Regions from separate parts of the Homo sapiens genome. Here region 2 is linked to region 1. The links come from fine-mapping of genetic effects on gene expression. Tissue or cell type: whole blood. Region 1 holds a variant in brackets; the other region holds the start of a gene. All regions are shown on one strand. Distances are from middle to middle.

Region 1 (5,723 bases):
TGCCCATGCCTATGTCCTGAATGGTATTGCCTAGGTTTTCTTTTAGGGTTTTTATGGTTTTAGGTCTAACGTTTAAGTCTTTAATCCATCTTGAATTAATTTTTGAATAAGGTGTAAGGAAGGGATCCAGTTTCAGCTTTCTACATATGGCTAGCCAGTTTTCCCAGCACCATTTATTAAATAGGGAATCCTTTCCCCATTGCTTGTTTTTCTCAGGTTTGTCAAAGATCAGATGGTCGTAGATGTGCGGTATTATTTCTGAGGGCTCTGTTCTGTTCCATTGGTCTATATCTCTGTTTTGATACCAGTACTATGCTGTTTTGGTTACTGTAGCCTCGTAGTATAGTTTGAAGTCAGGTAGCGTGACGCCTCCAGCTTTGTTCTTTTGGCTTAGGATTGTCTTGGTGATGCGGGCTCTTTTTTGGTTCCATATGAACTTTAAAGTAGTTTTTTCCAATTCTGTGAAGAAAGTCATTGGTAGCTTGATGGGGATGGCATTGAATCTATAAATTACCTTGGGCAGTATGGCCATTTTCACGATATTGATTCTTCCTACCCATGAGCAAGGAATGTTCTTCCATTTGTTTGTGTCCTCTTTTATTTCGTTAAGCAGTGGTTTGTAGTTCTCCTTGAAGAGTTCCTTCACATCCCTTGTAAGTTGGATTCCTAGGTATTTTATTCTCTTTGAAGCAATTGTGAATGGGAGTTCACTCATGAATTGGCTCTCTGTTTGTATGTTATTGGTGTATAAGAATGCTTGTGATTTTTGCACATTGATTTTGTATACTGAGACTGCTGAAGTTGCTTATCAGCTTAAGGAGATTTTGGGCTGAGACAATGGGGTTTTCTAGATATACAATCATGTCATCTGCAAACAGGGACAATTTGACTTCCTCTTTTCCCAATTGAATACCCTTTATTTCTTTCTCCTGCCTGATTGCCCTGGCCAGAACTTCCAACACTATGTTGAATAGGAGTGGTGAGAGAGGGCATGCCTGTCTTGTGCCAGTTTTCAAAGGGAATGCTTCCAGTTTTTGCCCATTCAGTATGATATTGGCTGTGGGTTTGTCATAAATAGCTCTTATTATTTTGAGATACGTCCCATCAATACCTAATTTATTGAGAGTTTTTAGCATGAAGGGCTGTTGAATTTTGTCAAAGGCCTTTTCTGCATCTATTGAGACAATCATGTGGTTTTTGTCTTTGGTTCTGTTTATACACTGGATTACGTTTATTGATTTGCATATGTTGAACCAGCCTTGCATCCCAGGGATGAAGCCCACTTGATCATGGTGGATAAGCTTTTTGATGTGTGGCTGTATTCGGTTTGCCAGTATTTTATTGAGGATTTTTGCATCAATGTTCATCAGGGATATTGGTCTAAAATTCTCTTTTTTTGTTGTGTCTGTCAGGCTTTGGTATCAGGATGATGCTGGCCTCATAAAATGAGTTAGGGAGGATTCCCTCTTTTTCTATTAATTGGAATAGTTTCAGAAGGAATGGTGCCAGCTCCTCCTTGTACCTCTGGTAGAATTTGGCTGTGAATCTGTCTGGTCCTGGACTTTTTTTGGTTGGTAGGCTATTAATTATTGCCTCAATTTCAGAGCCTGTTATTGGTCTATTCAGGGATTCAACTTCTTCCTGGTTTAGTCTTGGGAGGGTGTATGTGTCCAGGAATGTATCCATTTCTTCTAGATTTTCTAGTTTATTTGCGTAGAGGTGTTTATAGTATTCTCTGATGGTAGTTTGTATGTCTTTGGGAACTGTGGTAATATCGCCTGTATCATTTTTTATTGTGTCTATTTGATTCTTCCCTCTTTTCTTCTTTATTAGTCTTGCTAGCAGTCTATCAATTTTGTTGATCTTTTCAAAAAACCAGCTCCTGGATTCGTTGATTTTTTGAAGGGTTTTTTGTGTCTCTATCTCCCTCAGTTCTGCTCTGATCTTAGTTATTTCTTGCCTTCTGCTAGATTTTCAGTGTGTTTGCTCGTGCTTCTCTAGTTCTTTTAATTGTGATGTTAGAGTGTCAATTTTAGATATTTCCTGCTTTCTCTTGTGGGCATTTAGTGCTATAAATTTCCCTCTACGCACTGCTTCAAATGTGTCCCAGAGATTCTGGTATGTTCACAACATAATGTTTCTAAGTTTTATCCATGTTGTAGCATAAATCAGTACTTATTACATTTTATGACTAAACAGTATTCCATTGTATGGATATACCATATTTCGGTTATCCATTCATTTGTTGATGGGCATTTTGGTTCCTTCCCCCGTTGGTTGGGACAAATGATGTTGTTATGAACACTAGTGTACACGTTTTTGTTTGAACACCTGTTTTTAATTCTTTGAGTATATATCTAGGAGAAAACTTGCCAGATCACACCATAATTCTATATATAACTTTTTGAGCACCCGCCAAACAGTTCTGCATGACGGCTTCCCCACTTTCCATTCTCATCAGCAATGTACAAGAGCTTTGCCTTTTTCACATCCTTTCCAACATTTTTTTTCTTTTTTCTTTTTCT[C/CT]TTTTTTTTTTTTTTTTTTTTTGGTTATAGTTGTCCTAAAGGTGGGAAGTGGTATCTTATTGAGGTTTGGTTTGCATTTATTTAATGATTAATGATGTTGAGCATGTTTTCACATGCTTATTAGCCATTTGTATATCTTCTCTGGAGAAATGTGAGCTCTGATCCTTGGCCCATTTTTCAATTGGGTCATTTATTTTGTTATTGTTGAGTGGGAAGAATTCTTTATATATTCTGGATACTGGACTCTTATCAGACATATGCTTTGCAAATATTTCTTTCATTCTGTGAGGTATTTTTTAAACTTTATTGATAATGTCCTTTGTTGAAATAAAAAATAATAATTTTGGTAAAGTTCAATTTCTCTATTTTGAAATATTACATTTGCTAAATAAAATAATATTAATTTTGTCCAACAGAATATAAACAAAGATATTTAACTGATCAAAAAAATTGAAATTATCCATAGCAATGCATATTACTGAAAAGTTCCCATATGAGTTATGTCTGAGCATGTTTATTTATATCAAATCTTCTTTCAATGCTGGCTAATTTAAACTTGACATTTGGCTGCTATCATGCTTTAAATTAATTATTTGGATTAATAATAATTTACATAATGGAGACATTTCTATTATATGCGAAGTTTCCATTTCATTAAAAATAATTTTTTTTTCTGTAAATACCCAATAAGCTTATTTTTTAAGCTAAATGCTTAGGTTTAAGACAAGATTTCTCTCTGAACCCCATTAACAATTTTTTTTCAAAAATGCATTACAAAGCTATTATTTTATGTTAAAGACTACCTATGCCAGTGAGTAGTTGTTCCTCACTACCTCATCATAAAGCTAGTCATAAAATCTGAATTTTATCTAGACCCACAAACACTCAGAAGAAAGAAGATTTTCACAAACTCCATTGCAGTTAAAGGTAGCTGTGTGAATAAGAAGTGGCCAAATAATATAAAGTGTTCTTAGCAAATCATTCTTAATAGAAATTAAGAATCATTCTCAATAGAAAGCTACACATGTTCTTTATCCCTTCTTTCTCACTTTACCCCTCCTGTTGTCTAGAATGCAGATGAGATATCTGGAGCTGGGGTAATATTATTCAATCATGGGGGGATATTGGAAATGCAGAAAGGACACAATATTGAAGGGAAATATAGAAAAAACACAATATCAACTCCAACATTATGAGACGACTACACCAATCCTGTATCATCTACTTCCAGACATTTGTGTGAGACAGAAATACATAATATCTTGTTTAAGCCACGATTATTTTGGATTTTTCTGCTGACTGCAAATGAATATAAAATACACTTCCATTTCTGGCTACCACTCAGCCCCATCCCACCATCAATAACAATTTACTTATAAAGTTCCAAGCCAGTACAAGTTTTTTTTTTTTTTGGCCAGTACAAATTTAAACTCTGAAACAATTCTACTTGGAAAGTAAACTTTCCAGAGGTACTTGTATTCCTGTGTACAATATTTTATTTCTGATAATTGAATGTTAATAACTATAAGAATGTAAATAGTGATCATTTTTTATCCTTCATTAACAAAAGTAATCAACATGCAGTTGTTAATAAAATATAGTCTAACCTTAATTTTAGTTTTCCTAAGCTTCAATACCTATGAAACATTTTGTAATCAGAATATGTCTTCAGGAATTTGAATGGGACAAGATTTTCTCATAATGCTGGCAGATGGTTTTATATGATTAACTGCAGCAAATATAGCCTACTGGTTTGAAGGCTTACCAATGGAGAAATGGTCTCACAGGAAGCTTTTTGATAAGTGAAATATAGTCTCTATGATGTGACAATTTAGGAGAATACAAAAACTTTTCTTACAAATTCAGTCCTGAAGAAAAATGAAGAAAAGATTAGTAGTTACTATTCATAGACATAGCTCTAAAATGTGACAAATGCAAGCACATTTATCAGTCCTGTAAATAATTTTTTATAGTTCCATCTGTTTGTTCATTTACTTACCTATCAAAAGCAACAAAAATCAGTTATATTCCTAAGGACTAAGAAGGAATAAGAAATATTCCTTTGAAATAAGGAAGTTCTAATATCAGTTATGATGTAGAAAACAGGATAAAAGTTAATCAAGAAAATTTATAGTAGAGTTTTTTATTATAAGGAAATATTATACTTCTTCATCTCTGAATATAGTATCGCTATTACTAAGAGCCTTAAATATGAATTTTAGAAGCAATAATGCTACTTATGCTTTTATAATCCAGAACAGAAACTTAAACTTTTGGAAGAAGAATCTTACTTATATGTTTCTAGTAGTAATGCTATGTAGTAAGTATTAGTACACTTAGAAGCTTGTGATCAGACTTTATTTAGAAATGCCACTGTTTCCATGTGATCTCATTGTTCAATTCCCACCTATGAGTGAGAATATGCGGTGTTTGATTGTTTGTTCTTGCGATAGTTTACTGAGAATGATGATTTCCACTTTCATCCATGTCCCTACAAAGGACATGAACTCATCATTTTTTATGGCTGCATAGTATTCCATGGTGTATATGTGCCACATTTTCTTAATCCAGTCTATCATTGTTGGACATTTGGGTTGGTTCCAAGTCTTTGCTATTGTGAATAATGCCGCAATAAACATACGTGTGCATGTGTCTTTATAGCAGTATGATTTATAGTCCTTTGGGTATATACCCAGTAATGGGATGGCTGGGTCAAATGGTATTTCTAGTTCTAGATCCCTGAGGAATCGCCACACTGACTTCCACAATGGTTGAACTAGTTTACAGTCCCACCAACAGTGTAAAAGTGTTCCTATTTCTCCACGTCCTCTCCAGCACCTGTTGTTTCCTGACTTTTTAATGATTGCCATTCTAACTGGGGTGAGATGGTATCTCATTGTGGTTTTGATTTGCATTTCTCTGATGGCCAGGGATGATGAGCATTTTTTCATGTGTTTTTTGGCTGCATAAATGTCTTCTTTTGAGAAGTGTCTGTTCATGTCCTTTGCCCACTTTTTGATGGGGTTGTTTGTTTTTTTCTTGTAAATTTGTTTGAGTTCATTGTAGATTCTGGATATTAGCCCTTTGTCAGATGAGTAGGTTGCGAAAATTTTCTCCCATTTTGTAGGTTGCCTGTCCACTCTGATGGTAGTTTCTTTTGCTCTGCAGAAGCTCTTTAGTTAAATTAGATCCCATTTG
Region 2 (5,000 bases), 86 kb after region 1:
TTATTTTCTCATAGTTTTGGGTGCTAGTAGGCTGAGATCAAGGTGTCAGCATGTTTGGTTTCTTCCAAGGCTTCTCTCTTGGCTTGCAGATGGCCACCTTCTAGCTATGTCTTCAAATATGTTTATGGAAATATTGTTCACAGAATCTATAGGAAGCCTGGAAAATCAGGCTTGGGAAATAAAAGAAGCAAGAAATAATAGCAAAGAATGAAGTAAGGACTTGTATGGATCTTGCCACACTGGCCTGCCGCCACTGGACTGGTAATACCATACATGCACTCTAATGCCCTGAAAAATTCCTACACTTTGAGTCTTTGTCTTGTTTTCTTGAGATTAAAAGCCTGAGACATAGGGCTTCCTTCCTATACAGAAGGACATTAGAATGCTGGATAGCAAACAATAATTTCTATTCAGTACAAAATCTACTGCCTTAATCTATTACATCTGATACATTCCAATAAATGTAAAGTTATCCAAATGGCTATATCCAAGGCAGTAAATTCACAGCCTGTCTACCAAATCGAAGCAGTCAGGTTTGACAGTTTTTCTTTTAGTTCTTTTACGGTGGGCATTTACCTCAGGTTTAACACTGTTCCCACAACTTCCTAATGTATTTCACTCATCCTGACGCTCAAGTTTATAGCCCTGCTTTCTTGGGTATATGAATTGTAACCCTTGGACTATGCCTTCTAAGCACTGTTTTGTGAAAGTTTCGTTTGAATTGTAAGGTCAATAAAAATAGCAGTAGAAGACATAAAAGTCCCAGCCCTGCTACCATTTGCTATTTGAGACCAGGAAAAACCATGTACCTTATTTCAAAAAGTAGTGAATTCAATGAGTTGGACTTCCTTATTTCTAAAATGTATGAAGAAATAGTGTACGAGGGAGAGTGCTATAAGAGCATGTACTATATTCAGAAATGTGTATTTTCCACTTGAGGCAAGAAAGGATCTTTGTTCTCTACCTGGGCTACACTTCAGAGGAAAAAACCGAAAGCAAAGGTCAGGAGACAGAAGAAGTTATGAACCATGAAACTGGAGCCATTATCATAACATTATGAGACTCTAGATTCTTTGTAACTTCCCCATATTTGTTACTTATAATTCATTTGCCTCATAATAATAATCAGTAAAATTACTCAAAATCAAAGGCCCAAAGGGCATCTTTGGGGCACTAAAAGTAGGAAGTTAAGACAACTACATTCCATATGCAAACAAAGTCTCAAAGGAGACGATCCCCAAATAATCAAATGGATAATAATACTGAGTAAAGAGGGGGCTGGCTGCATCCCTCCATCCTCTGACAAGAACTATGACAATTACAAAAAATAAAGATGAAAATATGTAAAAGGGGGGGAGCCCATTAACCTGCCAATATGAGCCCAAATGAAAAAAAGTGTGTCAACATACACCTGCCATTCTCGACACAATTCTTTTTAGTAGCTATCACATTTCTTCTACACACACACATACACACACAAAACATACTTGGGGTTCCTTGACATTATCTTACGTAGAAAATTACTAAGCAAATAATCAATTTGACTAAGTAGGGGGGCTTATCGTTTTCTCCCTATTCAAATTAATGAAAAAGATAAAAAAACTTTTATCTATAAAGATGATTCTTGGTTCCACAATGCTTCTTAACAGAAATAGTTTAAACAATAATCATTTTAAAAAATAACAGCTAAGCATTGTACATTTTTAAAAAATAGTATTTTCGTTTGTACAAATATCAATGGGTCCCATTCATCATTCAAGTACCTTTTCAAACAGGATCTAAGTTTGTAATGTTAGGTAATAGGCATATAGGCTGAAGCCGGACTGCCAAGATTACAATTGCTGGCTCTGTCCTTAATATAACTTTGGGCATCTTTCTTCCTTTCTCTGCTTCATCTATAAAACGAAAACAGTAACAACTCCCACCTAAGTGTCGTTGTGATAACTAAATGAAATAGTGTGTGTAATGTGCCAAGGAATTTCTGGAGCTACCAAGCACTTAAACTAAGTTCTAACTAAGTTTGGTTACTTTCACGTTATAAAGGAATTTTTAGGAATCACCTAGGCACTCTCCTAAAGTCTCAAAATAACTTAATACAGTACTTCTAAGGAGTTCAAGTGCCTCCTTATCTGGGACGCCATCTCAGATGCTCTTCAAATGAAAGGGACCCTGCAAATGAAAGTTAACTTTTTCCATTTTTTAAATAATCCTTCGCAGGAATCTGAAGCACGCGACACTCACGGGCCATTCAGCTCCGCCTCTCCAGGGAACAAGAAGGTTAACTGAGTAACGTGGTCACGGAGCAACCCCGAGTCGCTGCGGCTGCTTAGTAGTCACTCAGGATGGGGATGGTACAGGGGACCATTAACTGGCCCGGCAGGAAAAGTTTCCCGGTGAGGTGACGATGGACAAGAGTCGCCCCATCGTAAGCGAAAGTGGACTGAGAGGAAGCACAAACGCATGGACTCAACCAGCTCGCCCAGATTCACCCTCAGGCCTTTTGCCATCTGAAAAGGGCCTATCGGATGCGCGACATCACGAGTGACGCGTAGTCATTTTCCCACGTCCCGTCCCTGCCCCCTCCTAGTGGGACGCAGTGGGCGCGCACGCGCAGCTCCGCTTCCGGGAGCCGCTCCTCGCTACCCACTATGCTCTGCGACATCGACCTGTCGCAAAGGCCGCGTTTGCGGGGCCAATGAGCGACTCGCTTTCCGTGCGGTGCGGCGAGTGAGGCCCCGGTCTTCCTCCTCGTCCTGCCGCAGGGCCAGAACCCCTGACGGTATTCAGCTGCGCGTAAGTCTGGCCGGTGCCATCTGTCTCCGCAATGCCCCCCAAGAAACAGGCTCAGGCCGGGGGCAGCAAAAAGGCGGAGCAAAAAAAGAAGGAGAAGATTATCGAAGTGAGTACCCACCCCTCCCCCACTCACGCCGCGAGCCCTCCGGAAAGCCACTTCCCCGCTCCGGGCTTCCCTGGGAGCCGGCTCGCTTCCTCGGGCCACGTGTTCCTCCCTTAGGCCTGTGTGGCCCACTGCCCCTTCTCCAGCCCCTGATGACGCTAGCTCTCTCATTACTATAGTGACGCTGCTGGCGCCCCCGCACCTGGGCTTTGCCTCTCCGCCCACACGCCCGTGTTCACCCACCCATGCACCCGGGTGCGAAATGACCCCTCGGGACTGGCACAGGGTTTTATCCTTCGCTAGTCCTCTCAGAATTGAGGAGATTTTCCAAGGTTATGTGTGAAGAAATACGCTGAACGGTCTCGGGCCAGCGTCTTTCTGGAAGACCGACTCATGACGAGTCTTTGTGTTCGTTATTTCTTTACCCGTCACCCAGGGATGGTACTGTTAGTTCTTTTGAACCAACAAATTACGACTTGGTGGCTTTTTCGATCCACCTCTGAAATGTTTAAAGTCCCATAAAGAATGGAAGGACTTTCCGTCACAACCCAGGGTCTTGAACGCAGAGCTTGGTACTTACATTCTGAAGTGGATTAAATAGGATAACGCCTTAAAAGAGATTAGGTTTCAGTGTCACTAATTGTGTGAAGTCCCGTAACCCAGTTTGAGATATATGTGTGTGTGTGCGCGTGTATATATGTATACATCTATGTGTGTGTATATGTGTATATATGTGTGTGTATATATATTCGTTTAACACATTGAGCCTGTAGCCCTTTAATGGCCAAGGAACGCTATTGACGTTCTTACATGTTGTGCACTTGTTTTCCAACAACTGAATTGAGTTTCCTTAAAAGATGAACCATATTTGACATTACGTAAACATACCATACAGACCCCAACGAGGTATTTCTTCCCTCGATTTCTGCTATTAATCCTCCTCATAATTAAATAGGACCTCTTGTACTTTGGATATAATTAGAAAAAGCCATGACCATTTTACCGCATAAGGTGTAAAGTCTGCTCATTGGATTTAAGAAAATGCTTAAGAATTTTGCTATACTTGGCCAGGTTCCAACTTTGGAGGAGAACTGGTATTCTTATTGCCAATTTGTACAGTTTAAAACTGTCATGAAGTACTATAGCCAGACACTTAAAAACAAAATATTACCTTCACATCTGTGTTTTCTATTACCTTATTTGAACAATCTGGATTCGTGGCACTTAGGTAAATTTCAGGGGTTGCTGATCGGATGGCATTCACTTTTATGAAAACCAAGGACATTTTAGGGATGTCGTTTTCCTCGAGATTGGACCCTGATACGAAGTAAAACTCCCATTGAAATTAAATGTTATGTAATAATTTAGACAATTTAAATTATACTTCATGCATTGTAGAGCTTTCTCTATATCTAATTGTTTTATTTTTAATTAGTAGGACTAGTATTCTTATTTTAAGGAATTATGTGTGAAAGTTGTTTATAGTATCCATCAACTTTTAAAATGATGCATATGTTATGATTCTAGTCATCTTGTGACGAAATTATTTTTTAGCTAAAGAGAAAGCAATTTTAGTTTCAATAATGAAGGTATCTCCAAAGAAAAATGCAAAATAAGACAACTGCACTTTTTAACTAAAAATATTAACAACAACAAAGTGGTGAAATTAAGCCCGATTTTGTGTTTTCTACATTTAATATATATTATTTTTTTAATTTATTTTTTGTTGAGGTATAACTTATGTAAAATAAAATGTACAGGTTCTAGATGTATAGTTCTATGTGTTTTGAGGAATTTATTCACCCAGGTAGCTGCCACCCTAATTAAGACTTGAAACATTTCTATCACCCCACTAAATTTGTTTTGTGCCTCTTTCTATTTAATTCTTTCCACACGTGCAGCCACTAATTTTTTTGACAGGATAGATTAGTTTTTACCACTCTAGGAACTCATATAAATTATACAGTAGGTAGCCTTTGTGTCCTTCTTCTTGCTTTCACACCATGCAGTGTTTTTGAGATCCATGCATGTTGTGTATATTTCTAGTATGTTCCTTATTGCTGAAAAGTATTCTCTTGTATGGGAACCATTACAATATGTCACC

What was found. PIP is the estimated chance that this variant, and not a neighbour inherited with it, causes the effect.
Region 2: ZC3H15 starts here. The variant in region 1 is fine-mapped to the expression of ZC3H15 in whole blood (INTERVAL, PIP above 0.99).

What each region holds. Positions count from the first base shown.
Region 1 is chr2:186,396,820-186,402,542 of GRCh38, forward strand. No RefSeq gene overlaps it. Among named protein-coding and RNA genes, the nearest start is that of ZC3H15, 87 kb to the right of the region's middle. The variant C/CT (reference allele first, on the strand shown) is at 2,526.
Region 2 is chr2:186,483,559-186,488,558 of GRCh38, forward strand. ZC3H15 (zinc finger CCCH-type containing 15) reads left to right here and starts at 2,702. Exons shown (of 10, transcript NM_018471.3): 1 at 2,702-2,899. The coding sequence starts at 2,825. It overlaps LOC105373785 (a long non-coding RNA gene), which reads right to left and starts at 2,442. Exons shown (of 2, transcript XR_001739147.3): 1 at 2,242-2,442. It also overlaps the pseudogene DPRXP1. RefSeq lists an enhancer at 2,332-2,811.